Homo sapiens: one gene and its partners. The protein of the gene in region 3 interacts with the protein of the main gene of each other region in a biochemical or structural test. Each region holds a gene or a part of one and is shown on either strand. Other genes may lie near its edges.

What was found.
Region 1: the proteins of PRKX (region 3) and PRKAR1A form a complex in vitro, tested with the Homo sapiens proteins (one study listed by BioGRID).
Region 2: of the proteins of PRKX (region 3) and SMAD6, one has a biochemical effect on the other in vitro, tested with the Homo sapiens proteins (one study listed by IntAct).

Annotation. Positions count from the first base shown.
Region 1 is NC_000017.11:68,518,715-68,529,745, reverse strand, and holds part of PRKAR1A (cAMP-dependent protein kinase type I-alpha regulatory subunit), read right to left. Parts: intron 6,991-11,031; coding exon 6,820-6,990; intron 6,022-6,819; coding exon 5,930-6,021; intron 5,731-5,929; coding exon 5,669-5,730; intron 4,835-5,668; coding exon 4,788-4,834; intron 3,993-4,787; coding exon 3,834-3,992; intron 1,907-3,833; coding exon 1,846-1,906; intron 877-1,845; coding exon 755-876; intron 1-754. UniProt on the Homo sapiens protein: Regulatory subunit of the cAMP-dependent protein kinases involved in cAMP signaling in cells.
Region 2 is NC_000015.10:66,697,800-66,705,235, reverse strand, and holds the start of SMAD6 (mothers against decapentaplegic homolog 6), read right to left. Parts: upstream 3,001-7,436; 5' UTR 1,978-3,000; coding exon 1,161-1,977; intron 1,145-1,160; exon of another isoform or gene 1-1,144. UniProt on the Homo sapiens protein: Transforming growth factor-beta superfamily receptors signaling occurs through the Smad family of intracellular mediators. SMAD6 is an inhibitory Smad (i-Smad) that negatively regulates signaling downstream of type I transforming growth factor-beta.
Region 3 is NC_000023.11:3,666,434-3,677,464, reverse strand, and holds part of PRKX (cAMP-dependent protein kinase catalytic subunit PRKX), read left to right. Parts: intron 1-2,698; coding exon 2,699-2,867; intron 2,868-9,272; exon of another isoform or gene 9,273-9,531; intron 9,532-9,978; exon of another isoform or gene 9,979-10,183; intron 10,184-11,031. UniProt on the Homo sapiens protein: Serine/threonine protein kinase regulated by and mediating cAMP signaling in cells. Acts through phosphorylation of downstream targets that may include CREB, SMAD6 and PKD1 and has multiple functions in cellular differentiation and epithelial morphogenesis.

The DNA of each region.
Region 1 (11,031 bases), on a different chromosome or scaffold from region 3:
GCGAGGTTCTTCGTATCAAGCTAAGGTGCTTAAAGGGTGCACACTTGGGTTAGCAAACTGTAGATGAAGGGCTAAATCCAAGCTCACTGTCTCTTTCGCAAATCAAACTTTACTGAAATACCACATACATTCATTTACATATTATTTGTGGCTGCTTTTGCACTATGACAAGAGTTGAGACTTTGCGAATGAAACCCTATGGTCCACAAAGCTTAACTTACTTACCACCTGGCCCTTTACAGTCTCCTGACCCCTGATTTAAATAAAATCAATTAGCAACTATGGAGCCACATTCATAGAAATCTGCCACTTGGATCCGCTTAGCAAGAGTATCTGCTATACATTTCCATGGAATGTGGAGATATACAAACACAGTAATTTTTCAAATTTAAATAATTACCTTTAATCCTTATTTGCCAAATAGCCCAAACACTTGCATTTTAACAAGAATAGTGCAGAATCATCACAGTTTGTTATGTTAAATGGTTTTTAGAATTTGGCTTTTCATGTCTAGGGCCCTTCAAGAATTCTGACTCAAACTCATTTAAAAATATAGTGACCTGGCAGAAAACCAAACAACAGCATTTCAAAGTAAAAGATAATTTTAAAATAAAATGGTCAGGTATTCTTAAAAACTAAAGCTATAGTTCAGAATTAGCCCACTCTTTCCCTCTTAGAGCGTACAACTTTTTAAAGTATTAAATTCTGAGTTCTTTACCTCTAAAATTCAAGTATTAAATTCTGAGTTCTTTACCTCTAAAATAATGAAGAACTCATCCCCTGGTTCTCCCTGCACCACAATCTTCTGCCCATCTTCAAACTGCACTGGTTCCAATGCATCAGCTACCGTAAGACGTTCCCACTTGTCCAGAGACTCTGAAAGACAAGAATCAAAATAACTGCTCTGTATTATTTGGTGCTGTTATAAAGGTAAAAAGAAAGTATAAAGAGATTCAACCAAATAGCCATGCCCATTCAACATTCTAGTAGTGTCTCAGATTAAAAGTGGTACCTGTCTTCAATTACCTCTAGTCTGAGCAGGATTCTCATACTGCCTGCAGATAGCCCTTAGATCCTTACTTCGGTAGCCCAGTGGCTAGGTTAATTTATACCAACTGTACCAAATGGCAAGGGAATAAGAAAATGTAATCCTTAAGTATTCCTGAAGATTGCCATCAATGCAAATCAAACCTACAACTACAATACTCAAAAGTCATAGTTTCCCCATCCATATCGTTCCAAAGTTTCATAGAAATAATTTAATCTATTTAAATTCTTGGTTTACTTTATGAAAAAGAACTAGAAAATAACTTTTATTCCCAAAGGCCAAACTACTATCCAAAACACAAAGCATATGTAACCAATTCAAAGAAAAGACAAAGAAGAGGTGAAAAATTCACTGTAATAAACAATGGCAGAAGCCTGTTACCTTATAAAAATCCCCATTCCCCTTTCATGAAGAACAAGTTCTAACATCTCCAAGTCCACATAACAAAATGCACAAAAGAATATCTTCAATTAATCTGCTTTACTCTAAATTTCAACAAACTTCTGGCATGTTTTCAGAGGATGCCAGCAAATGATACCTAATCTTTCCACAGAGGAAATGTATTGTTGGAAGTACTCACTTTTCTGAACCAATCAACTCAATGATGGAACAAGAGAGACGGGAAGTCACAGAGGAAATAACTGTGAATGTCCACAGTCAGAAGGACTTTCAGCCCTTCTGTCTTTTCAGGGGGAATGAGTAGCAATTATACTTTCAGAAGGCTTTTCCCAAGTCCATCCAATTCTAATTCAGGGGTATCTCACATACTAGCAAAGTTAACACACTTTACAACTCACCTAAAATAGAGACTTTACTAAGGAATTCCTCATACATCTTCCGCTTTCTCAGTGTGCTTCCCTAAAAATAAAAATAACAAAAGTGATATCCCCAAGACGTGTAATTATCACCACATAATGCTATGGAATAATAAATATTAAGTTTCAAATAAATTTTAAAACCAGAAAGTCAAAGCTTGTTGCTTTTAATGAGGAAAGTTTAATTTTAACTAATTCATTTTTATTTTACAGGTAATGAATGATATGACATTCTTGTGATTTTTATTTTCCGCCAATATTATGCCCAATTCCTAGCATTTGCAACCAGTATGTTGACATATTTCACAAAGCATTTCCCAACTTCCAAATACAGTCGAAATACCGGTTTATACCTGAGCCTATCACTCAAGATATTTTTCCACACACTTTAAACCAATGTCCAATTTCCATGTTTACTCTCAAACTGATTTTGTGCCACTGCCAACCCAATTTATCTCTGAAAATATTTTCTCACAAAAGTAATCTAGGTCATTTACAACCCAATAATCCTAGTGTTCTTCCTGTTCAACGCTGGTATTTAAATGCAGATTCCTCCATTAGTTCTGGCTTCTCACCTATACAATTGACATGTCTTTATTCTATAAAAAAAGGACCATATCCTCCCCTACCCAGCTATATAGATATTTCACCCCATATCTACAGTTCCTAATTCCTGTCCACAAAGCCAAAGCATTGTGAGGCCCTAATTTCCTTTCAGGCCCACTATGAGAAAGTAAAATATTTTATTTCAAACCAATAGTTCCAGGTCCTACCTCTTCCTTCTTTGACAATGAGATAAAGCTGTAAACATTCTATGTTTCCTTTTACTAATAGTATTCCTGTAGAGGAAATGCAGAACTAACTGTATGGTCAGTTTCTTCTCCAGTAGACTGTCACATCACTTCAAAACCAATCTTTCTAAAATTTAGACTTATCTTTGCCATAAGCGTTTTTTTGTGTGTGTGGGTTTAAGGTTCAGGGGTACATGTGCAGGTTATATAGGTAAACTGGGTGTCACAGGGGTTTGGTGTTCAGGTAATTTTGTTGCCCAGGTAATAAGTAAAGTACACCACAGGTATTTTTCCTGATCCTCTCCCTCTTCCCACCCTCCACCCTCAAGTAGGCCCCAGTGTTTGTTGTTCCCCTTCTAGTATCCACGTGTTCTCATTGCTTAGCTCCCAACTGTAAGTGAGAACATGTGGTTTGGTTTTCTGTTCCTGTGTTATTTTGCTTAGAAAAATGGCCTCCAGCTCTATCTATGTTGCTGCGAAGGACAAGACTATCTATCTAATCTAATCTATCTATATATCCCAAATGCAGAAAAATTTCAAAGTACATCAGGCTGTACATTTTCAAATGGTCAGATGGACACTGCACAAATTTAAGAAAACCATTAAAAATGACCAATGCATTGGCTGAGACTTAAACATCCAAAGCTATCCTATAAATTTATCACAACGTTCTCAAAAAATCTGACTATCACCAGAAAGTTCCAATGGTTTTAGTATTTTGTTTATTCCTTTAACGAGAGGGGACATGACATACATATACATTACTGATAACCCACTTTCACAGGTTAGGGAAGCTGATTATTTCTGAATGGCCCCAAATAACTTTAAGCACTTAAAAGCAGCACCTATCATGCTGTAATGGGTATAACTAGGTAAATTAAGATGTGCCTACCAGCAAATGGATAGATTTCCAAACATGAGATGACCAGCACATATATACCAGATCTTGTTTCCCAAGGTTTTGTTCTAAAATATCACTGCCTAAAATGGCATAATGAATAATGCTAAGCTGGGCTTAATGCAAAGTATTTGCTCATTAAAAGAAAAATATTCGCTTATTAAAAGAAAGAAATATTTGCTCATTAAAAGAAATATTCTCTTTTTAATTTGGTAATATTCAAACATTAGTTACGTAGATGAGAATTCTAAATCACACTCTCAAACACCATGGTCTCTTACCATGAGGATTCTTCTATAGCTGTCTCGGTCGATGCCCCACAATTTCACATTTGTCTTTGCTTTGACAGTGGCTGCTCTCGGTGTTCCATAAATCAAAGCAAGTTCTCCAAAGCTCCCTCCTTCCCCAACACTGGTTGCCCATTCATTGTTAACATAGACCTAAAGTGCAAGTGACATCAAAAAAGTTTATTTTCTAGATACAAACACTTAAATGTTAAAAACCCTCAAACCTTTTTAAAAGGTCACAATCCTGAACTTTGTTTTAAAAAACAGAATATATTATGTTTGCAGTACACAACAGAGAAGAATAGGTGATTTCTGACGAGTTAAATGAGTTAAGAGTGTCTATAATTTACCTGATTTAATTATCTGATAAGAAAAAAGCACTCTGTAAGGATGTAAGGGAAAAAGGTCAGCTAAGCACTAATACCAGTCACAGATACTTAGAGAACCGTGCTGAGCACTATGCTAAACATTTTACTTGCATTAGGTCACTGAATCTTCTAATAATCCTAAAAGATCAATGCTATTATTGTCCCCATTTCATTTGTGAATAAGAAAGGTATATTAATTTTGCTAGCTAATGGCTGGGTCTAGAATCTTTTTTTTTTTTTTTTTTTAAGAGATGAGGTTTCACTTTGTTGCCCAGGCTGGTCTTGAACTCCTGGGCTCAAGCAACCCTCTTGCCTCCATCTCCCAAAGTGCTGGGATTATAGGCATCGGCCACTGCACCCAGCTACACACACTTCTTCACCACCACTCCAGCAAAGTTCTGAACAGAAAATTACCTTTAAAGAGTTTCTCTGTGTCATAAAAATACTTGGCAAAAGGTATTAATAAAATCTGACATACAAGGGATGTAATGACCCTTCAAAATCACTATTCTTATTGCTCGGAAGCGATCAATACATTGGCTTTTAAGATCAACATATTTTTGATATTGGTAAATCTTACATCCGTCTCTCCTTGATCAATCACATAGAAGTTATCCCCTTCATCACCTAAAAGAGGGTAAAAAAGTTAGAAGCATATTCCAAATTAAAGAAAGAAATTATCAAAATTATTACAAAACAATAAACTTATTTTACAGTGGTACTGTGAGAGTGTGTTACAAACTAACACAATCTTTCAGGGGAAAGAAAATCAAGCAACATATTTTAAAAGTCATAGAATTAATCAAAATTTTTTTAGTCATCTCATGGTGAAGAATACCTCTGAAAAAAATTTTTAAAAGCTACATATGTGTAGTTATTAACTGCTATGGCATTTATAACAAGGACATTAGAAACAACTCAAATAGTTAATAACAAATTATCAGGCTGCCACAAAATGAAAATATATACCCACTCATAAAATGTCAAGAATAAATAAGAAAATAAAAAGAGGAAGATAGTCAAAAAGTTAGATCCATGTTAGTCTATATAGGCAAAGTAAGAATCTATAGAAGTCCTAGAACCTTTTTAATAGACAGGGCTATACAATGAAGAATGTAGGTGTTTCATTTATTTCTTACTTTAAAAGTGATTAACAATATAAAGAACATGAGAGATATATATGATTCTGCAATTCTATATGACATTCAAGGTAAGACAATGTAGGCATTTCCTTTAAATTATAAACAAAACTGTATCAAAAATATTAGTTCCCAATACAAAGTGTTCTGTCCATCTCAGAAAATCTTAATTTAAAAGAAATAGAAAAATCCAATAGTATAACAGAAAAAAAAAAGTGGTAGGATCAAAGAGGAAAACAAACTTCAATAAAACAAAACCAAAAAAATCCTCTAGTCTCGCCTCCTCTCCCGTAACAATATTGCATGCTCCAGAGGCCCTTACCTTGCTGAATCACAGTCTCTCCTGCGATAAAGGAGACCGAAAACATGGCATCAAAAATATCACTGCAAAAGAGAGAAGGCCTCGTGTTACATTTCACATGTCTCTTCCGTGAATTTCAAACATTAAGCTTAGAATTAAAGACCCCAGACTGTCATCTGGTGAACAATTACTAAGAGCTCTAAAACTTGCAACAAGTGTTGAAAACAATTTGGGATCACACCCTTACTTGAAAAATAGTGTTAAGAAAGAGCCTGTTCCTACCTTCTCTCATTATCATCAAGATGTGAAAACAGCACATTCTTTTCAATGGCTTTGGCTAAAGCGGCCATTGTCTTGTAATCTTTTGGTATAACCTAGAAAAGAACTGAAGGTCAAATGACAATTCCATAAACCAAAAACATTTCACGTTTGCAACCTGCGCTTCAATTAAATGTCAAGCCACATTATGGTATTTAAACAAGACTGCTTTGTAGTGTTTCACTACAACACACTTGTACTATCTTTGATCCATAAACTACTCAACAAGTATTGACTAATTAATCCCCTTGCCTACAGCCAGGCCTAAATATAAAGTCTGGTACTTGGTTCCCAGTTAACAACTAAAGAAACAAATCAAAACACCTGGACCAAGGTCATTATTCTGAGGCAAAACTAAGTATTTTATAATAATTAGTCATTTTAAAAATCTGTGATCTGTTAGCTTCACAAGCCTCAAGTGCCAGGACAATTCTGTTCCCCTTTAAGGCTAACAGCATAACTCAAAATAGCCTGGCTCTGAGGAAGAGGAGAACACAGGACAAATGAGGCTCGTAGAATAAAAGGTTAAAAGCCACAACATTTAATAGGATAGCAAAAAAAGGACATCACGATTCAAGAGAAAAAGCAATACCGCCCACCTCCTTCTACTGCAAAACAACTGCAAGGAAATAACAAACCCCAAAATGCAATTATTCACTAGTTCATAATCACTATTAGTTATTTCCTCTGACAGCATGCTATTACAGAAACCTGTTTTCCAGTACCCAAGAATTGTACAGGATGGATGAAGTTCCACCCTGTTTTGTATTTTATGATTCATTCATCAAAGGAGACTAGATGACCACCAAGTGGGTCCCAAAAGCATCCCCCCGATATTCAAATATCAAAACTACCTTTCTAACATAGGATGCCGCATCTTCCTCCGTGTAGACCTCAGCGCTGATAGCACCTCGTCGCCTCCTACCTTTAACCACTGGGTTGGGTGGAGGAGGAGAAATCTCATCCTCCCTTGAGTCTGTACGAGTGCCTGCTTTCTGCAGATTCTGAATCTGTTTTGCCTCCTCCTGAAAGAAATTACGAGTTTGCAAAATGAGATCCTTCGGCATGTAAAGCTGGCACTCTCATGTTCCAATGATAGTCTATCTCAGTCACTTCCAATCTCTTCTTCCATTAACAATGTAAGTTAAGAGGAAAACACCAATTCCAAAGGGGAAAAAAAGAGAGTAACACTTGAAACACTCTCAACAGAATGTACCTCAGATGATAACAGATGCTATCCTTTATTAATGGGCAAAAGTCATTAGTACAAGCCATTAGTACTCACATAACATGTGAGTAACAAATCAGATATTCATTAATGTCTTGACAACAATTATCTGTGATGCACACAACAGTAACACACTGCAAGACAAAATCCTGAAAATTGGGTTTTTTTGGATGCTACTGCAGATAGCAAGAGACCCTCCTGCCAAAAGAAATGTTATCAGGAAAAACAATTCAAGCCCAACATAGTGATCCAAGAATGTCTAGATTACTGAGTTATTTCATTAACTCAATAAGCCATTTTCTGGATCTGCCAGGCCAAGACCTATGCTAGGCAACAGGAAATTAAAAACAAATAGGAGAGGGTCCTGAGCCTGTGGAATTCACATTCCAGTTTGATCCCAGATAAAAACAAATAATGAAATGATGTGATGGTAACCACGAATTTAAACGAGATCGTATCTATAATACTTCTCCCAGCAGAGCTAGGATCACTCTTTGTAATCAAGGTTTAAACTTGAAGTTAAAAGACAAAAAGAGTTTACTTGCTTTTAAAAACTACTTATTGGACCAATTCAAATAAAACCTAAGATAAACTATTAAACATTCCTTTTTTCACATCTAGAGCCTTAAAAACAAATTCCTCTCAGATCTAAAGAATTAGTTGTTGTGCCTGAAGTAAAAGGGAAAAAATAAAAATGTGTTATCTTCTACTTTCTCATTCATTTGACCCGTTATTTCTTTTCTATATATAAATTTGTAAGTGCCCATATATTAATCTCCAGAACATTGGCAGCATTCAAGAAAAGCAATGGCGTGGGAGGGAGACCTTTCATTATTATGCCCCTTTGTACCTGCACAACTTTGAAATATGTGAATATGTAACCTACTTTTTAAAATATGGTTTTTAGAAAACTCATTTCATGTTAATTCTGGTTGTTCCAATAACCAGTAAGGTTTTCTCATTTCATATTAACACAGGTATAAAACTCAAGTCTCTCCCAAGTTTAAAGTTTAAGAATACATGACTGGGTACAGTGGCTTACGCCTATAATCACAACCCTTTGGGAGGCCGAAGGTGGCAGATCACTTGAGTCCAGGAGTTCGAGACCCGCCTAGGCAACATTGTAAAACCTCATCTCTACAAAAACACATAAAAATTAGTTGGGCGTGGTGGCACACACCTGTAGTCCCAGCTACTTGGGAAGCTGAGGCAGGAGGATCACCTGAGCCTGGAAGGTAGAGACTGCAGTGAGCCATGATCGCACCACTGCACTCAGGCCTGGGCAACAGAGTGAGATCCTGTCTCAAAAAATAGGCCAGGCATGGTGGCTCACACCTGTAATCCCAACACTTCGGGAGGCCAAGGTGGGCAGACCACAAGGTCAGGAGTTCAAGACCAGACTGGCCATTATGGTGAAACCCCATCTCTACTAAAAATACAAAAATTAGCCAGGTGTGGTGGCAGGCACCTGTAGCCCCAGCTACTCAGGAGGCAGAGGCAGGAGAATCGCCTGAACCCAGGAGGCAGAGGTTGCAGTGAGCCGAGATTGCACCACTGCAGTCCAGCCTGGGTGACAGAGCAAGACTGTCTCAAAAAAATAATAATAAAAATAAAATAAAACACACACACAGTTTAAGAGTATAAATGAAAACACAAATTCTCCCACCCCCAAATTTGTCACTGACATTTCACAAAAATTTCAGGAAAAATTTCACAAATAACATTTCACTTGGGACTACATTCTACTTCACTGAATTTTTAAGATTAATTTTGAAGTAACAAAAGCATTCTGATTTTAGCAGTGTCTCATGGATTCTAGTGAGTCTTTTAAAAACAGCAATCTGAATATAACCTAATCTGACAACTCAGAGCCATTACTCAGATCATGAGTTTTCTAGTATATACTATGATATATTTTTATATCCTTTCTCTTGCTGTTGTCATCCTTCTGTCAGTCTCCTTCCTCCTCAGCTCTTTAAGTGAGGTGATGAATAACCTAAATACCTTGACGTGATCATTACACATTCTATGCCTGTAAAATATCACATGTACTCCATAAAAACATACAAATGTTATATATCAATAAAAAATTAAAAATTAGAAAAAACCTCCCAGTCTACTCAGTGGTTAATTATGTTCTTGACTCTGAGGTTCAAATTCTGCATTCGGTTTTGCATTAAATTCTGCACTATCTTCTTGACTCTTAGGTTCAAATTCTGTCCCCACTACTATGTTTTCCCGATTATTTGTTCCCTCCCTGCTTCTGTCACTCTTCCCTGTGGGTAAAGTATACTTCCCACCCCACTGACTTAAGGCTTGGCTACAGGACTTGCTCTGGCCATGGAATGTAAGTGGACATGCCATACCATGGTTGCCTGTGTGGTTTGGCTCTGTCCACCTTGAGCTTCTGCCCTCCCTCTGCTTTGAGAACAGCATGCCCTATATAGGGCTGCTCCTTCTGCTCAGCCCCAGAACAAGATATGTGGTGTCAAGAACATAAGACAGGCTGATACCAGAAGAACTGCACATGACTGGTCTGTTGTAGTAACCACTGAAATTTGGGGGTTGTATGTTGCTCCAGCAAAAGCTGACGACTACAGTCTATAACCACAGCCACATTACTTAATTTCTCTCAGTTTTACTGCTATGTCTATAAAATGCTGAAAATCACATACCTCGTACATTTGAAATAACGAGTATTTATGTATATAAAGTGCTTCACACAGTACCTGACACAGCAGACACAAGGTCACTGTTATTTTAATTCCTCTTACCTAAGGGTCTAATAAATACAAGAGTAAAAGAAGACTCAAATTCCAGATGACTGAATTAAAATGCAGAAGCTTTCAAAAGACCAACTGTCAAGAGTTTTTGGTACATTTCTTATGGAGTAGTTGAAGGTAACAGAAACACAACCCCCCAGTAATGACGAAGAAGGTGATGAGAATATGACTGTATTTTCAGACTGATATGGTTTGGCTGTGTCCCCACCCAAATCTCATCTTGAATTATAGTTCCCATAATCCCCACATATTGTGGGAGGGACCTGGTGGGAGGTAATTTAATCACAGGGGTGGTTACCTCCATGCTGTTCTGGTGATAGTGAGCTCTCATGACATCTGACAGTTTTGAGGGGCTTTTCCCCCTTTTGCTTGACCCTTCTCCTTGCTGCTGCCATGTGAAGAAGAATGTGTTTGCTTCCCCTTCTGCCATGATTGTAGCTTCCCGAGGCCTGCCCAGCCATGAGGAACTGTGAGTCAAACCACTTTCCTTTATAAATTACCCAGTCTTGGGTATGTCTTTTATTAGCAGCATGAGAACAGACTAATACAGTAAAATGGTACACAGAGCGTGGGGTGCTGTTACAAGGATACCCAAAAATGCAGAAGCAACTTTGGAACTGGGTAACAGGAAGAGGGTGGAACAGTCTGGAGGGCTCAGAAGAAGACAGGAAAATGTGGGAAAGTTTGGAACTTCCTAGAGATTTCTTGTACGGCTTTGACCAAAATGCTGATAGTAATATGGACAATGAAGTCCAGGCTAAGGTGGTCTCAGATGGAGATGAGGAACTTGAGAACTGGAGTAAAGGTGACTCTCGCTATGCAAAGAGACTGGCAGTATTTTGGCCCTGCCCTAGAAATCTGTGGAACTTTGAACTTGAGAGAAATGATTTAGGGTATCCGGTGGAAGAAATTTCTAAGCAGGAAAGCATTCAAGAGGAAGCAGAGCTTGAAAAATTTGCAGCCTGACAAAGCAATAGAAAAGAAAATCCCATTTTCTGGGGAGAAATTCAAGCCTGCCGCAGAAATTCACATAAGTAACAAGGAGCCAAATGTTA
Region 2 (7,436 bases), on a different chromosome or scaffold from region 3:
TGCACCATCCTAGACCCACTTTCCCCTTCCACACAGAGTCAGGAGACCTACAACCTGACCCTCTCTGTGCTCCCAGCCTGGGTGCTGACTCTCCCCAGGGAAGCCAGAATGGAGGGATTCAGAGCCCTCCCAGGCTCAAGAGCCTGTGACTCCCTGCCAGTCCCACCCCTGCAAAACCCCAGTGCCAGCTAATGGATTCCCATACATCCCTCAGAGGCTAGCTACAGGCTAAAGTGTGTGTTCCCCACAAGACAGAGGTCAGAGCAAGGCAGCTGCAAGCTCCTGGCCTGCTGGAGCCTCCTGACCTGCTGGGGCCTCTGCCTGTCTGCACCTGAGCACCAGGGCCTGGCCAGGTAAGCAAGGCTGAGGGTGGGGCGTGTGCAGGAAATCCCAAGAGGAGAACAAAGAAGGGGGGCAGTTCTCAGAGGTAATCCAGTATCTGGCTTCTTCATCTACTCACGGATGCCTCCAAGACCCTAAACTCTATACAAAAGCTGAACACAAAACTTGAGAAGGACTATGGAAGACCCTGGCACTTGACACCCAAGGGATGTGGGGAATGATATTATGTGGGGAATAAAGAGGGTGCTCTTTACTCCAGAGAGGGGTTACCCTGCAAAGCTTTGTCGAAAGTATGCAAAGGCACAAATTGGACATTTGACGAACACTTTTGATTCTAGCTATGATTTGTGTACACCCAATTTCACAACTTACAGCTACTTGGACATAGAAAAGCACAGTGTGGGTAAGGGCACGTGCATACAAATGCTAGAAGCCTGGGCACAGACTGGGGTAGATTCCGGAATTGAGGTAGGAGGAAATAGCACCTACTTCTTTGGTCTCTCCTTGGCCTGCCCTCCCCTTTCACTGCCTATGAAGTTGGAGCCTACATCATGTCCCTGAAACTGCACAGAGAAAACTACGACATGTACCCTTTTAAGTTTACCGGAGCCTTGAGATAAAGTTGCCACTTGATGTGTGTGCTGGGACACCCACTCCCCTCGGCCGGTCTGAGGCGCCTCCCCTGGTGGCTCCCACGCTCCAAGGGCACCCGGGGGAGCACCCGCAGCTGCGCCGACCCGCAGTGTCACAGAGAGAAGGGCACGGAAGGGGATGGGGACGGGGACCCGGGGCCCCCCCGGCCGGCGCAGCGCGCTCACCGGGCCCGCAGAGCCGGCTGAAGTGGTAGGGGTTGCAGCACACGGTAGGGCCGTCGGCGGCGGCGGCGAAGCTGTGGCAGCCGCACAGGGGCTTCAGCTCCACGGCGTGCTGCAGGTCGGGCCAGCGAAAGAGGCGGCCGAGCAGCAGCTGCGGCGGCGCGGGCTGGCCGCCCAGGCGGAGGTCGGCGCGCGGCACCAGCACGCAGCCGCCCGGCACGCCGCCGCGGGACTCCACCGCCTCCAGCAGCGTGTCCAGCGAGCGCTCCTTGAGCCGCTTCAGCAGCGAGTACGTGACGGTTTTGAGTTCCTGCTCCAGCAGCAGCAGCCGCGAGCGCGCTTCGCGACTCCGCCCGCCGCCCGCCGGCTCCAGGGCCGCCCCGGCCAGGGGGTCGCTGGCGTCCCGGGGCGCGCCGGCGGCGTCCCGCTCCGAAAAGAGACAGCAGGTCACCGTCTCGCAGTCACTCTCGGGCAGCCAGCCCGGGCCTCCCGGCTCCGCCACGTCCAGCAGGGAGCTCCCAGCGCCGGCCCCTGGCTCCGACATGGGCCTCGGGGGGCCCCCTGCGCGCCGGCGCCTCCCCGCGCCCTGGGCGCCTCGCTGTCCCACTGCGTCCCGGGGCCGCCGCGGGGCTACCGGGCGGACTTCGGAGCGGCCGCAGCCTCCGCCCTCTCTTGCCCGCGGGGCCGGCTCAGCTCGGCTGCCCAAGCTCCCATCCTCGTCGCCGCCACCGCCGCCGCCGCTGCCGCCTTCCTCCCGGTCGGGGACCACACGACTTCGCCAAAGTCGCCGCACCAGCCCCGAGCGTTTGGACCTGAACATACGATATCCTTTGGCGCCAGGGGTGGGGGGGAGGCGGTCTCCGGTTACCGGGGGTCCGTTCCCTCAGCGAGGCGCCGGCTGCGCGGGTCGCAGCCCCACATGAAGCTCCGCCGCGGAGCGCCGTGCAGACCGCGCACAGCCTGTCGTCGAAGGGGCGCCGCAGGGCGACAACATGAGGGAGCTCGCCGAGGCGGGACGGCCGGGAACACGCGCACGCCGAGCCGCAGTCCGCGCGCGGCCAGCGGCTACATGGACCACAGCGGCGGGGCTGCTCAACAACTCCAGCCCCCGCGCTTTAGGGGGGCTGCAGGCGGCGCGCCGCCAGAAAGACCCCACATGGGCCGGCGAGCCTTCAAAAGTTGTGCGGCTGGTCCATGAGCACAAAGCGCTCGCGCGAACCCCTAAATGTGTCTGGAAAGCCCTGCCTTTACCTTGCCTTTTTTTTAAACCAAAGCGCTTAACTACATGGGCTTTTCCCGCAGGATCCGAAAGGCAGGCTTGTTGATACCCCCAGCTCCCTTCTTACTCCCTGCAAAAAGAAAAAAAAAAGGAAAGAAAGAAAAGGAAATCCCAAACAAAACCTAAATCCCTGGATTTGCATGCACGAAAGGCCAACGCCGTCTCAGGTCCCAGGCGCTAGATGCACTTGGAGCGAGTTTCTCCTGGACGCGGGTGTCAACACATGAGTGGAAGCTGTAAAAATCCCAAAGAGCTGCTGGGAATCCTTAATTAAAAATGCAGTCCACCGATGCAGAGGTCGCAGCCCGCCCCACGCTGCCCTCGGACGCTTCGTGCGCCGAGGCTGCCGAGGTCGCCCCCCCTCCCCCCTCCACAAAAGTGCCTCCCGGTGGCCCCGGGGTCCCAGCGAGGTCTGGCGAGGCAGCGCCCGGCGGCTCTTTCTCTCGGCTCAGCTCCCTCGATCGCTCCCCCGCTCGGCTCTCTCTCTCTTTTTTGTTCTCCTCAAACGCACACTGAGGGCCCCCGGAGGAGCGCCGCGGAGTCATTGGCTGCCTCCCATCATATGCCAGTCTAGACACTTTGGCGGCTCCGCGGCGCTGATTGTTGCGCAAACAAGGTTTCAAGTTTCTTAACTCTTAAAGGAGAACACGTCCCATTGCAGGGCCGGAGGCTCCAAGGGGCCGGCTCCCGGGGCGGGCCGAGCTCGGGCCCCCGCCCCACACCACCCCGGCACCCCCGCCCAGGGCCTGACAGCGCCCGCGGCCCGCTTTCTGCCTCGCGTTGCGCCCAGAGCACGGATGCGAGCGAGCACACACGCGCGCGCGGACACACACACACACACACACAGGGTTACACGAGCCACGAGCAGGCGCGCAAGGCTCGGCGGACCCACTGAGACTCGGACGCAAACGGGGCGCTTTGCCTCTCCCTGGCTTGTGCACAAACTTACAAACACACTTTGCACTTTAAAGTTGTTCCAAACCCCCATCCTAGGGTAGGCTAATAAAAATGGGTGTGCATGTGTGCCTTCCAGGGTTGAGCCTCTGAGGAGCAGGGGGCGGCGGATATGTTGGGGTAGCGGATCTTCCGTGACTGCACTAGGGGCTCTACGCTCCTTGCACAAAGTCGGGGGTCGCTCTGCCGGGCCAAACAGGGAGCTCAGGACGCTTTGCGTACGGTGGCTCCAGGCTCGCCCGGAGTGGGGAGATGGAGAGGGTGGGGTAGAGGCGGGGAGTGTCTACTCGCTGGCTCCTCTCGGTCGCCACGGCCCTCCCTTGGAGCGAGGCGGGCCGCCGGCCGGCCGGGCCCCCTCCAGGCCGGGTGCTTCCTCTCCCTTCTCAAGTTTACTCTCCGCACCTCGGAGAGGGCTGTAGGTGAGGGATCACGCTTTCCCTAGAGAGGTTTCCACGCGAAAATGGGGGTGGGTTGGGGGCGGGATCGGGGGCGCGGCGGCAGCAGCCTGACGCCCGGCGCGGGAAGGGTTAAGGCCGCTCCTGCCCCTGGAGCCGGCGCGGCGGGGTACCTCCTCGGGCGCGCTCGCTAGTCCGAGGGTGGCAAAAGTTCAAGCTTGTAAAGTCGGGATTGGTCCCGCGCGGAGGGGAAAAAAGGCCTGGGCCCCCCTCCCCCCCCGGGCGCGGCGCCGATTGGCCAGGCAGAGGGGCCGGCCCCGCCCTCTCCCCCCGCGCGCGGCGGCCCCACCCCCGGCGCGGCGCCCCGCCCCTTTCCGGGCAGGAGCCTGGCCCCGCGCTGAATGAAAGAAATTCCGCTACTCTCATTGGCCCGGGGCTGGGCGCCATTCCCCCGCGGTGACCGCGGGGCGCCGGCGGGCGGGTCTCCCTGGAGAGTGACCACGCGTGGAGCTAGCCTGGGGAGTGCGCGGCGGTGCGAACCCCCGGCCGTGCCCAGAGTCTGTGTGCGCTGGGGGAAGGGTGGCATTTGCAAGGAGGATTCAGAACCCTTTGCTGAGCTTTACCTGGAACCAGGTACTGTTCGCGCTGCGCTCTCTGAGAGTGGCCGTTGCTCCCCGAAAGAAAGATCGGACTGAGACACTTCCTCACACCCATCCCCTACTACTTTGGCCAAATTAAAGTAGCGGTCCTAGCCTCAGTTTCTTGTTTGAAACCGCGGATGAGGATGCTTGCCCTTCGTGCTTCACAGAACCACGAAGGTCCCTGGAGATAGTGCACGTTAAATGCACAAATCGCAAGCGAACAGCAGGATGAATTTTCACACGTGAACAAACACACATGATGTCACCAGCACCCAAAAAGCAACCTGACCTGCACCCCAGAAGCCTGTCTTGTGGCCCCTTTCAGTCACTTTTCGCCCATGGGGAAATTAATACATCTTAAAATACAAACAGAAACTCAGTGTATTTTCTTTTATCCCCGTGTATGCTCTTTGTGGATTATCTTTGACTGTGTATTACAATAATAATAGTTCGTGCGTATTGAGTCGTTACTATGGGCAAGGCAATGTTCCAGGACTTAGTTAACGCTCACAACACTTAACATAGGTACTATTATTATTAATATATAAGGACTTAACATAGTTACTATTATTATCTCCAGTTACAGATGAGGAAAACTGAGGCACAGGAGCTCACTCATGTAACTTGCCACTAAAACGAGGATGACATTGACAATGCTAACATGCTAAAACCAGAGAGGCATGAACCAGCACGCCTGCTCATCCTCTGGCTGGAAGTGGTGTGTAGGTCTGTGATGCCAGACTATACTCTTTAGGCAGGGATTTCCAAAATGTGGTTCAAAGGTCCACCTGCTGAATCAAAGTGTCAGGGGTTGAGGCCCCAGAATACAACGTTTTGGGGATAGCTGTGGTTGTTAACACCATTTTATTTTTATTTTTTATTTAATGTATTTATTTTTTTGAGACAGAGCCTTGCTCTGTCCCCAGACTGGAGTGCAGTGGTGGGATCTCAGCTCTGCACTCAAGTGATTCTCGTGCCTCAGCCTCCCAAATAGCTGGAACTATAGGCATGCACCACTATGCCCGGCTAATTTTTGTATTTTTAGTAGAGACGTGGTTTCACCATGTTGGCCAGGCTGGTCTCGAACTCCTGACCTGCCTGAAGTGATCCGCCTGCCTCGGCCTCCCAAAGTGTTGGGATTATAAGCGTGAGCCACCACGCCCGGCCTGTTACCACCATTTTTTGCTTATTTTTTGAGACGGAGTCTCACTCTATCCCCAGCCTGGAGTGCAGTGGTGCGATCTTGGCTCACTGCAACCTCCACCTCCCGGGTTCAAGTGATTCTCCTGCCTCAGCCCCGCCAAGTAGCTGGAACTACAGGCATGCGCCACCATGCCCAGCAAATTTTTGTATTTTTAGTAGAGACGGGGCTTTACCATGTTGACCAGGCTGGTCTCGAACTCCTGACCTGCCTGAAGAGATCTGCCGGCCCTAGCCTCCCAAAGTGTTGGGATTATAGGTGTGAGCCACCACGTCCGGCCTATTATCACCATTTTATAGATAAAGACACTGAGGCACAAAGGCTTGCCAAAAGTAACTTGCACAAGCTTATAATTAGTAGCCGATGCCGGATTAAAACCCAGCCAGTTTGGCTGAAGAAGGGGTATGCTTGTGTAATGGGAAGCAAAGGAAATGGGCCGGGCAGGAAGGATTACCAGCAGGTAACCTGCAGGACCTCCTGAGGGCAGGGATGTGTGTGCTTCTACAGATGCTCAGCACGTACCCCTAGGGGCTCCCTTCTTCCCACTTCCACCCCCATGCCTCTCTGAGGTACCATGGCATCCCAATCTGCAGAGTTCCTGGGGAAGTGCCCTGAGAGATGCCCCAACAGCCTCAGACCAAGGAGAGATTGAAGCAGTGACCTTTCTGGGGGGATCTGCCTTCTTTGCTGGGCAGTAATGGCAAAATCTGGCATCATCTCTTGCTCACTGGGAGATGTGGCATCGTTCCTGATGTGCTCAGGAACGATGCCACCTGAAGCTCACTGAAACCAGAGTCCAGTGGGCCTAAATTCAGTACTGACCCTACTTACCTCCCTCAACTTTATGAGCCTTGGGATTCTCATCTGTGCAGTGGAAATAAGAATCATGCTGGAGGTGGCTGACAAAATTAAGTGACAAGAGGACCTAGAAGCAGCCCTCCTTACAGGGCCACTGCATCTGAGTGGAGATAATGTCAGGATGGGAAGAGCAGTGACAGTCCTGCTGTCCTTGGATTCCTAGGGCCCATCCAGCCTAGTGCCTGGCATGCGCTGTGGCCACTAGAGGGTGTGTATGGCGGGGCCCAGCAGGGCAGGGCTATGCTATGACCTAAGTACACCCTCCCTCGAGGCTGCCAGACTGGAGAGCAAGCTCCAAATCCCTAGGGATGTAGAGAAAAGAGAGGAAAGGAAGAAGGTGGGGTCCCTGATGCTTATCCACAGGTCTCTGCACCCGAGTTACTCACAAAGTAACTCACAAGTAACTCTGACCCCCTCAGATTCAAATGTGTCCCCACTCTCTTATTCCAGTATTTTCCCCAAAGCACTCTATGCTTCCTCTTTACTGGGCTTGTCCCAATTCAAAACCGTACAATCTTTTATCTGTTCCCCTCTACCTTTGGGATGTAAGCTCCACAAGGGATGAGATGGTGAAAGTAGCAGGCCCAGGCCACCCACAGCAGCGTGGAGGCAGTGGAGTCAGAAACAGGCCATTTGATGCCATTCTGCCTGTGCCATTGAAAAGCTAAATCACATAAGACAGCACTTGCCCCATTTCTTCTTCCTGGTCCCTAATTCAATGCCTGTCACATAGTGGGCACTCAATAAATATTTGTAGAGTGGTTGAAATAAAATCCCCCACTTAACTGAACTCCATACTTATCCCTGTGCCAAGCACATCAGTATTTCATCATATCCCCCCAACAACACAGTGAAGAAGGTTTTATTCTTCCTAGACCCATATTTTTAGAGGAGGAAACAGAGAGGTTAAGTAATTTGTTACAGATCACACACCAAGTAGGTAGCAGAGTT
Region 3 (11,031 bases):
GTCCCAACTATTTGGGCTGAGGTGGGAGGGTCACTTGAGCCTGGCAGGTCAAGGCTGCAGTGAGCTATTGATTGTGCCATTGCACTTCAGCCTGGGCAACAGAGAGAGACCCTGTCTCAAAAAAAAAAAAAAAAAAAGACAAAACAATATAATGTGATCTACCCTCTAAGCAAATTTTCATATATACAATTTTACTATTGTATATGTGAGCTATTTATATATAAAATTTCATTTATCAGTTCAGTATTGTTAACTATATGAACTAGGTGTATGGTAGATCTCCATGGTTTATCTTGTTCAACTAAAACTTTGTATCCTTTGACCAATATATTTCCCCTTCCCCCTCAAGCCCTACCCTCTGATAACTACCTCTCTACTCTCTGCTTCTATGAGTTTGACTATTGTAGATTCTGCATTAGTCCATTCTCATGCTGTTAATGAAGACATACCTGAGACTGGTTAATTTATAAAGGAAAGAGGTTTAATGGACTCACAGTTCCACATGGCTGCGGAGGTTCCGACAGTCATGGCAGAAGGTAAAAGGAGGAGCAAAGTCACGTCTTACATGACAGCAGGCAAGAAGAGAGCCCGAGCAGGGAAACTCCCATTTATTAAAACATCTGATCTCGTGAGACTTATTCACTATCAGGAGGACAGCATGGGAAAACCCACCCCCATGATTCAGTTACCTCCCACCTGGTCTCTCCCACAACACGTGGGGATTATGGGAGCCACACTTCAAGATTAGACTTGGGTGGGGACACAGCCAAGCCATGTCAGATTCCTTGTATAAGTGAGATCATGCAATATTTAATATTTGTTTTTCTGTGCCTATCTTATTTCACTGAACATAATGGCCTCCAGTTCCATCCATGTTGCTGCAAATGCCAGAGTTTCCTTCTTTTTTAGGGCTGAATGGTATTCCATCGTGTATATGTACCATGTTTTCTTTATCCATTTGCCCTTGGACGGACACTGAGGTTGTTTCCACGCCTTGGCTGTTGTGAATAGTGCTGTCATAAACATGGGAGTGCAGGTGTCTGGAAGATCCTGGTTCTCTTGGGTTTTGCAATCTAGCATAAAGCAGGCACAGGAGTACCAGCCAATGAATGGATAGGTAAATGGATCAATATTGATCGGTGAGATTTGCTCGTCAACAGATGTTGGTTCCTCAGAAGGATACACTTCCAAACCATCCTTTCTCTGAATGTCAGTTTCTGAGAAGCCTCTCTGCTGTTTGGGGTGGGTGTGATCACATAATACGGGAGGGCAGTTTTGTTTTAGTTGCTCATCTCTGTCTGCAGCTGTGAATGCGTTGTTTAAAAATATTGCTGAGGAATGACTTGCATGTCAGTAAGGGGCTGCTGACGCTGGGATCAAGGTACGTCAAAGGCAATTTAGGGATACTCTAGAAATCCTGCATCAGTTGCAGTGGCTCATGCCTGTAGTCCCAGCACTTTGGGAGGCCGAAGCAGGAGGATCACTTGAGCCCAGGAGTTCAAGGCTAGCCTGAGCAACGCAGTGTGACCCCCTCTTTACAAAAAGTACAAAAATTAACTGGGTAGGCTGAGGCGGGAAGATTGCTTGAGCCCAGGAGGTAGAGGCTACAGTGAGCTGTGATGGCGCCACTGCACTATTCGTTCCATTAACCCAAGAACATTTATGCTACGTGAAGAATATTTCAATATGTGCGTGAACACGTGCACACCTTGTAGGATCAGTGTGTTACAGGAAGAGGAGGAGGATGAAGAGGAAGAAGAGGAGAGGGAGGAGGAGAAAGGAGGAGGAGGAACAAGCAAAGCTTGTTTAGAGATTTTGATTTTCTTTTATATCTCATTGACTATTAGATTTCTTCATTTACATGCACCCCAGTGGGAGGAAGAGGAGGGAGAGGAGGAGGAGATGGAGGAGGAGGAAGAAGTGGAAAAGAAAAGGATGTAGAGGAGAAGGAAGAGATGAAAGAGAAGGAGGAGAAGATTGAGGAAGAGAAAAAAGAGAAGGAAGAGATGGAGGAGGGGAAGGAGGAGAAGAGAGTGTTTGGATTGAAAATGTCCCAGCAGAATACAGTAGAGCTATTGGTTTTCTTTTATATTTGTAGTGGTTGCAGTTGTTGTTGTTGTTTTGTTTTCTGTTTGTGGGCACCTATATAGCACTTCATCCCAACCCACGCCAGATTGTAGAATACGGACTCCGTACTTTGAGCAAGCCTTAATGTGCGTTAAGGAAACAGCCGTGTTGAGGAGGGCTGTGTGTTTTACACCCTGTCTGTATTTCTGATAAAACCAGAGAGCCTGAAGAGAAAAAGGCATGTTATATAAATACATTTACTATTACTCTAATGCTTCTCCATGTGGGTGTGTGGGGCGTGTGGGTGTGCTGTGTGCGAAGACTGATCTGCAGAAATTATGGCCAGTTTGTCCCCAAATTGAGGAACCATTCAGAGGCAGATGGCTCTCTCTGTCTCCCTCTCTCTCCCTCTTTCTCTCTCTGCAATTTCTGTATTCAGTGGAAAATTCCAGGTGAGCGCCTCTCACTAAATGCCATCAGCCCACGTGCACCATGACACAAAGTCTCTGAAAGTTTCACTTGGGGTCTGTGTTTGCCGTCCTGGTGCAGCCCCCCGCTGATTGCATGGCTGTGGTGGTTTCTTCCTTTGTCGGAAGACTTAATGACCTCTGTCGATTTCTTCTCTCTCCAGGCACTGGGACGTTCGGGCGGGTGCACCTGGTGAAGGAGAAGACAGCCAAGCATTTCTTCGCCCTCAAGGTGATGAGCATTCCCGACGTCATCCGCCTAAAGCAGGAGCAACACGTACACAATGAGAAGTCTGTCCTGAAGGAAGTCAGCCACCCGTTCCTCATCAGGCTGTGAGTCCCCTCCTGAAGCCTCTCCCCACGCACTCTCCCTAGACCCCTGTGTGTCTCTTCTTATAAGAAGCTGGGTGGGCCGAGACCATGGCCTGCGTGCAAAGCCTTAGGCCACAGCAGTCTCCACCTGTCAGGTCTTATCAGCCTCTGATCTTAGAGCTGGAATACCTCCAGGGCTCCTGACCTCCATGGCTGACCAGGTCCAAAAAGAAACGCTCTGTGTTCAGAAGTCCGTGCCCAAGGCCCCTTGCTCCTCTCCTGGGTGAACCAAGTATCTCTGCCCGGAAAAGGATGCAGAAATCTTTGTCTCCTCACCTCCTTGGGTTCTGCATCTATAGCTCTCGGCAGAACTGGTTAAGTTGGTTTTTAAGGGACCACAGTCACGTGGACGGGGCTGGGCTTCAGGTTTCGTTGGGTTTCTGGTTGACTGTGGATGAGAGATACCCCGTTGAGATGCAGCCCACACACTTCCAGCTGATGGTACACAACAGTCTTATGTCCTAGGGTAGGTGTGATAGTCCATTCAGGCTGCTATAACAAAGGATCCTAGACTCGGTAATTTACAAATGACAGACATTTGCCTCATGGTTCTGGAGGCTGGAAAGTCCAAGATCAAGACACGGTGGATTCAGTGTCTGGCGAGGACCCGCTTCCTGGTTCATAGATGGCGCCTTTTCACTGTGTCCTCACATGGTGGAAGGGGTGAGGGATCTCTCTGGGGTCCCTTTTATAAGGGCACTCGTCCCATTCATGAGACTTCACCCTCATGACCTCCCAAAGGACACAACACCTAACACCATCACCTTGGGGGTGAGGATCCAACATAGGGATTTGGGAGGACACAAGATATTCAGACCATTCCAGCAGGGTAATTCCATTTCCACCCAGATGCCTTAGACAAGGATGTCCTGCGTGTCTCTCCTTTCCCTCCATGGGTGCCTTCCATCCAATTCCCACGTCTTCCCTCCGCCATCTTGCTACCATGCCTCTCCTGTCCACCTATCCATCTTCTGCTTTATCTGGGTCCCGTCTCTCTGCCCTGATTTTCTGTACTGGCTTCCCTCCTACCTGGTCTTTCTCTCCCAGCCTTGCTCCCCTTGAAGACATTCCTCACTTTATAGCCTCACTGGTCCTCCCAGGTACCTCTGCAATGACCTGCCTCTCTCCTTTCATCCTCAGGGTACTCCTGAAGTATCCCATATAAAGCCCCAGCAATGCAGCATCCTCCTACCAGTATCCTCGTGGACTGGCCCCCTGCCACCACCTCCCTACAGGAGAAGGTAGAAGGTGCTGTTCACACACTCATTCCGGGGCTTCTCCCAGGCCACCCTTCTTTGACAGGCCTCCTTCTTTGCTCTCATCATTGTCCTTCACTTCCCCCATCTAAGAAACACCTACCTGTTTTCCCTCATTCACCTGCTGTCCCCGGGACACAGGGTGCCTCCCATCATGTTCTTGAAGCACCTCGTGTGTACTGGAACAAGTGCACCTGCCTTCTCCTCTAGACCCAATGCTGCCTAAGCTCCGAACAAAATCATATGCAGAGGATGGGCGCGGTGGCTCCCTTCCTCCCTTCCTTTCTTCCTTTCTGCATTTCTCTTTCTTTCTTGACAGGGTCTCACTCCTTCTTGCCCAGGCTGGAATTCAGTGGCACAATCATGGCCCACTGCAGCCTCTGCCGCCTCCCAACTAGTTGAGACTACAGGTATATGCCACCATGCCTGACCAACTTTTAAAAGTTTTTGTAGGATGAAGTCTTGCTGTGTTGCCCAGGCTGGTCTCAAACTCCTGGCCTGAAGCAGTCCTCCAGCCTCAGCCTCCCAAAGTGCTGGGATTGCAGGTGTCAGCCCCTGCACCTGGACTGAGAATGCATGTCTGTTGTCTGCCGCGTCCCTCCACCCCAACCCCCAGTTTGTGGTACTTTGTTAATGATAGCCCTGAGGAACTCACACACACCCCCTGCGCCTCCTGGAGCAGGAGAGCAGCCGAGACGATGGGCTCCTGAGTACTCTACAGTTCAGAAATCTAAAATCCCACAGAAGAACCGCATGGACATGGGAGTGGGTGGAGTATACAAGTGAGAGAATTCCCCAGGATGGAATTCTTGAGCTCCCGCAAGTTAAAAAATAGGGAGGAGCTTGTAGAACAGAGCTTTAGTTAGGTAGTTCTCCTTTCTTCAAGGCAGGATAGCTCAAGACTGTTTTCCTTGGCAGATAAGGTGCATTCCTGCAGGGACGTGGATTCTGATTTTGATATTCCCTGCTTTCAATTAAGGAACAAAGTCGTTTATATTTCTTAAGTCTTATATAAAGCCCTAGAGACTTTAGAAATTCTATTCAAAGTTACCTATGTTGGTTTATTTTTATCTTTTATATAAAAAAGTATATATATAGATTTACATTTAGAGACGGGTTTTGCTCTGTGGCCCATCTTGGAGTGCAATGGTGCAATCACAGCTCACTGCGGCCCCAACCTCCCGGGCTTAAGCCATCCTCCTTCCTCAGCCTCCAGAGTAGCCGGGACTACAGGCACCCATCACTACACCCTGCTAATGTTTTTATTTATTTTTAATTTTTAAAAAACATATGTATATATTTTTCACAACCTCTTTGGTGAAGATAATGTTTTTGTTTTTTCTCTATGAACAGGGTCTTGCTATGTTGCCCAGGCTGGTCTTGAACTTTAGGCTGCAAGCAATCCACTTGCCTTGGCCTCCTGACATGCTGGGATTACAGGTGTGCACCACCACACCTACCTCATTTTAAAATTTTCTGTAGAGATGGGATCTTACTTTGCTGCCCAGGCTAGTCTCAAACTCCTGGGCTCAAATGATCTTCCCACCTCGGCCTCCCAACATGCTGAGATTATAGATGTGAGCCACCGTGCCTGGCCTATTTCTAACTTTTAAGGAGTGAAATTTCTCTGCACCGTGACAGCTTTTGAAGAGGACATTTTGGATGCTTCATGGGTTGTCCTTTGCCCGTACAGCTCACCGGCTCCTCCGAGTGCTGGTTACAGTCGAATGTGAGCTGTTATTTGTATGTCAGGTCCGCCTGGTGGTGTTGCCAAAAAGCATGAATTTTTCCTCATCATTTAAAGTCTACATGGAATTTAAGGCCACTTTCGATATTATTCTTGGGAGGATTTTATTCAGTGTTTTGGGAGAACATGGCAGGGGCTCATTTCAGAATTCTCTGATTTGGGGCCGAGCTCGGTGGCTCACACCTGTAATCCCTGCATTTTTGGAGGCCAAGGCGGAAGGATCACTTGAGACCAGGAGTTCCAGACCAGCCTGGGCAACATAGTGAGATCTCGTCTCTTAAGAAAAAAAATTAAAAAGAAAATTCTAGCCTGGCCAATATGGGGAAACCCTGTCTCTACTAAAAATACAAAAATTAGCTGGGCGTGGTGGCGCACGTCTATAACCCAGCTACTTGGGAGGCTGGGGCACTAGAATCTCTTGAGCCTGGGAGGCAGAGCTTGCAGTGAGCCAAGATCGTGCCACTGCACTGCAGCCTGGGTGACAGAGCAAGACTTTGTCTCAAAAAATAATAATAAATAAAAATAAATAAATAAATACAGTTCTTTGATTTTGAAATAGTGCAGAAAACAAGGCAGGCCCTGAAGTCCACAGCTCTCATGAAAAGTTTTGGATCTAGGGAAGTGATTGTCAACAATGAGCCTTTAAAGACTTAATGGTGATAGCAATTTACAGGTGACTTTTCCCAAAAAATGACAGAAAATGAGTTTGCCACTTGGGCATGTTGACTCACACTTATAATCCCAGCATTTTAGGAAGCTGAGGTGGGAGTGTCCCTTGCACCCAGGAGTTTGAGACCAGCCTGGGCAACATGGCAAGACCCTGTCTCTACAAAAAGTACAAAAATTAGCTGGGTGTGGTGGGGGGGCCTGTAGTCCCTGCTACTCAGGAGGCTGAGGTAGGGGGATCGCTTGATCCTGGGAGGCGGAGATTGCAGTGAGCCGAGATTGTGCCACTGCACTCCAGCCTGGGGGACAGAGCAAGACCCTGTCTCAAAAAAGAATCCGAAAAACAATGTAGACTTGGAGGGGGTGATGTAACTTAGCCCATGAGACCGCCTTAGTGACTTGCTGATAATTGATCTTTCGGTGCCCTGCAGTATTATGATAACCTGCTATAGCATTTTGCTTTTTCTGTGCATTAACACTTTAGGGACCAAGTGGCTTTAAGAACTGGATTAAAGTTGATCCAGTGCATTCAGACACTTGGCATTCCCTGTACATAACACGAGAGAGCACGCCGGGTCTGGCCAGCCCCATGGATAAGATGCTGGAGGGTGTCCAACGTTGCATGCTGAGGAGCATGTCTTAGAGGAGAATCCTAGATCCTCTGTGAAGAATGAATTTCATCCTCCCAGCTGTGCAGCTTCTCTTCTAAATGTAAGTTGCCTTGCTCAACATCTGCTTCCCATACGGGCAGTTTTAGGCCTTGGACTTCTTGATGAAGGTATAAAACGAGGACTTTCAGCGGAGGTGCCTCCCATTTATGGCTGGAGGAGTCTCTGGGGTGGGGCCGTCCTGCACACTTCAGGGTGTTGGGGAGTGTCCCTGGGCTCCACCCACCAGCGGCCAGGAGCAGCAACCTCAGTTATGAAAAGCAGAAATGTCTCCATACATAACCAAGTGTTCCTTCAGGGAGGGAGGGCAAAGTTTTCTCCACTAGTGAACCACTGTGATAGACAGACGACGGACAGAGAGAGATGATAGATACGATAGGTAGGTATATGTTGAGATGGATAGGTGATAGATAATAGATATTAAGATAGGTGTAAATGATGGGTGATTGATAGGTGAGTAGATAGATGATGGGTAGCTAATAGATGATATTAAGATAGGTGATAGATAATAGATACTAATATATACAGCTATAGATGATAGATGATATTGAGGTGGGTAGGTGATTGATTGATAGATTAATGACCGATTGCATGTAGGCAGAGCTCTCATGCTAAAAGAGAGTTTCTCAACCTCAGCAGTGCTGACACATGGGGCGGGATCATGGAGGACTCTGTGGTGGGGCATCCTGTGCACTGTAGGGTGTTGAGCAGCGTCCCTGGACTCCACCCAGCAGATGCCAAGAGCACCCATCCCATCTATGACGAGTATCTAAAGATGTCTCTAGATACTGCTAAGTTCCCCCTATGGGGGGACAAAAAGTTATCCCCAGTTGTGAACCACTGTGACAGATAGTTGATGGATGGATGGATGGATGGATGGATGGATGGATGGATGGATGGATGGAGATCAACATTGAGACAGATATTTGATAGATGACAGATATTGAGGTAGATGATAGCTATAGATGATAGATGGTTGATAGATATTAGATAAGTGATTGATAGATGATAGCTATAGATGATAGCTGATTGATAGATAGCTGGTAGCTATAGATGGTAGATGGTTGATAGATATTGAGATAGATAGGTGATTGATTGATAGATTGATGATGGAACGTATTAGTAGAGTTTCTCAACCTCAGCACTGCTGACATTTGGGGCTGGAGGATTCTCTGCGGTGGAACCGCCCTGTGCACTGTAGGGTGCTGAGCAATGTCTCTGGGCTCCACCCACCAGATGCCTCTAGCACCCCCACTCCAGCGTGACAGCCAAAGATGTCTCCAGACATTGTCCAGTGTTTATTGTGGGGAGCAGAATCAGCTCCATTGACACCCACTGTAGCGGATGCACAGACAGATAAATACCTGTGCGTGTGGAGTCCCTTTCTCCCTTTTCTGCCCCAGCCCCTGAGCCTGCAGCCCCACTCTTCTGTCATGATTGATTGGCTTATGGGCCAAACAGTGGTTCCAGTGCCATATTATCTATGGCACAGCAGCCGAGCCAAGCCAGTGGGTTTGGTCTGTGGTTGCAGGGCTTAGCCAGCTTTCTTCTACAGAACTTGGAAGGCAAGAGGTCTCTCCACTCCGGGCCACATCCTTCTAGTTCCTGGATGACCGCTCGTTTCTCCATGGAGAGGAGTTCATGCCAGAACCTCTTCTTCGGGGAGAGTGGATGCATCTCTTGGAAACATCTTTTTTTAAAGTCTGCAGACTTGAGTGTGGTCCCCATTGTCATTGGTACTTGTTGGGGGTAGGAGTAAAATCATTCCTTTGTTTTACTGAGAGTTCAGGAAGAAAGAACACCATGTTCTCTCCTTTTATTTATTTATTTATTTTGCTCTCTATTTGAATTTTAAAGGCAAAAATCTAGAAATAGCGCTTCTTGCTCTGTCATCACTGCCTGCAAAGCACAGAGACCAGAGTGAAGGCAGGCAGCTCCTGGGTCTTCTCTTCCTCTTCTTTGTCCAAAAAATGATACATTGCATGTTTAGTATTTGGGGCAAAGCAGACGCTTCAAAAAGGGAGGCTTATTTTATTATCTATATTTTTCTTTTTTATTATTTTTTACCTTGATTCCCTTTTTCTATGTATGAAAAGGGAGGTTTAAGTTCTTGCAAGAGAATGCAACTGTAGTGTCTTCTGAATGGAGTTTTCCATTTGATGCCAAGCCTTCCAGTGCCTTGGTCTAAGGAGAACTGCGTAGGGTGAGAAGAGTCCCAGCGATACGTGGAAAAGGGGCCTTACCAGCTCTGGAGGGCAAGAGGTAGGGGGTGAAGACGCAGTGGACACCTAAGGAGAATTTTGCAGGAGGAGTAGGGGTTTATTGGCTGAAAGGGGTGGGTGGTGGAAACTCATTCTAGACAGGGAGTGACACGGAAGCCATGGGTCACTACGGGGCAGGAGGGACATGGGGGAGAAACTCAAATCTGAGTTCAGCCAGGAGGTGGACACAGGAATGCAGTGAACCCAGATGTGTAGGAGACTGCCATGGGGACTGGGGTATGAGGAAGGACTGGCTCTGGCTCGGCTGTGCATATAAGGAAGGACTGGCTCTGGCTCAGCTGTGCATTTGGGCTGCTGGACAGTGAGGAGATCCAGGGAGAGAGAGTGCATTCCAATTTGGGAAACTTTGAGGGCAAAACATCTGCAGCAACTGTCTCAGAAGAGAGCCTGAGGCAGGGTCCTTGGAGGGAGGAAGCCACAGGTGGATGGAGCCACCGAGGGCTGCTAGGTCACCTTGGTTAAGGGCTAGTTGCAGTGCAGCCAGGTCGGAAAGTAGAGCCGTTCTGGAGCCTCACATGGCATAGATGTTGGAGGAGATGGGATGAGGATGGCTCATTTTCTTCTTCTCACCACAAAAGCCCAGCTTTATGGCGGGCTCTGGAGAGAGGAGGACCAACTTCTACGGTAAGGCGTCTCCAAATTAGTGAGGCTGATTTGCCTGTTCATAAAAACAAAAACAAAAGCAAAAAAATCCCTTAGAGGACAAGCCATCCCCGCAGACCCTGCAAATAAAAGACTGCAGATCAGCTTCGCGGATGGAAAAGTGCTGCTGTCAGCTAAAGATGAGGACAGAGCTGCTCAGCTGAGGTCACTGGAGAGGATGGGGAGGGGACTTGGAAACCTCCCTTGTCTCAGTCGTTGTTGACGACATTGACTCTTTCTTCATGTTGACTTTCCCCCCGTTCATAGATTCATAGATTGCTCTCTATGCTGGAAAACATTCTTTAAAATTTAATTTTTTTATTTTGTTAACATATATCACATAACAGTTTACTATTTTAACTTCCTTTTTTTTTTTTTTTTTTTTTAAAAGAAATGAGGTCTTGCTCTGTTGCCCAGGCTGCAGTGTACTGGTGCAATCATGGCCCACTGCAGCCTCAACCTCCTGGGCTCAGGTGATCCTCCTGCCTCAGCCTCCCAAGTAGCTGGGACTACAGGTGCGCACTACCACGCCTGGCTAATTTTTTAATTTTTGGTAGAGACAGGGTCTCGCTGTGTTGCACAGGCTGATCTCCAACTACCAGGCTCAAGCAGTCCTCCTACCTCAGGCTCTCAAGTTGAGCTGGGACTATAGGCACATGCCACCATGCCCAGTTAATATTTTAATTTTTGGCAAACATGTGATCTTGCTTTGTTGCCCAGGCTGTTCTCAAACTCCTGATCTCACTCAATCCTCCTGCCTTGGCCTCTCAAAGTGCTGAGATTACAGGCATGAGCGTCCATGCCCGGCCTCATTTTAACCATTTTTAAAATGTACAGTTCACGGCTGGGCGTGGTGGCTCACGC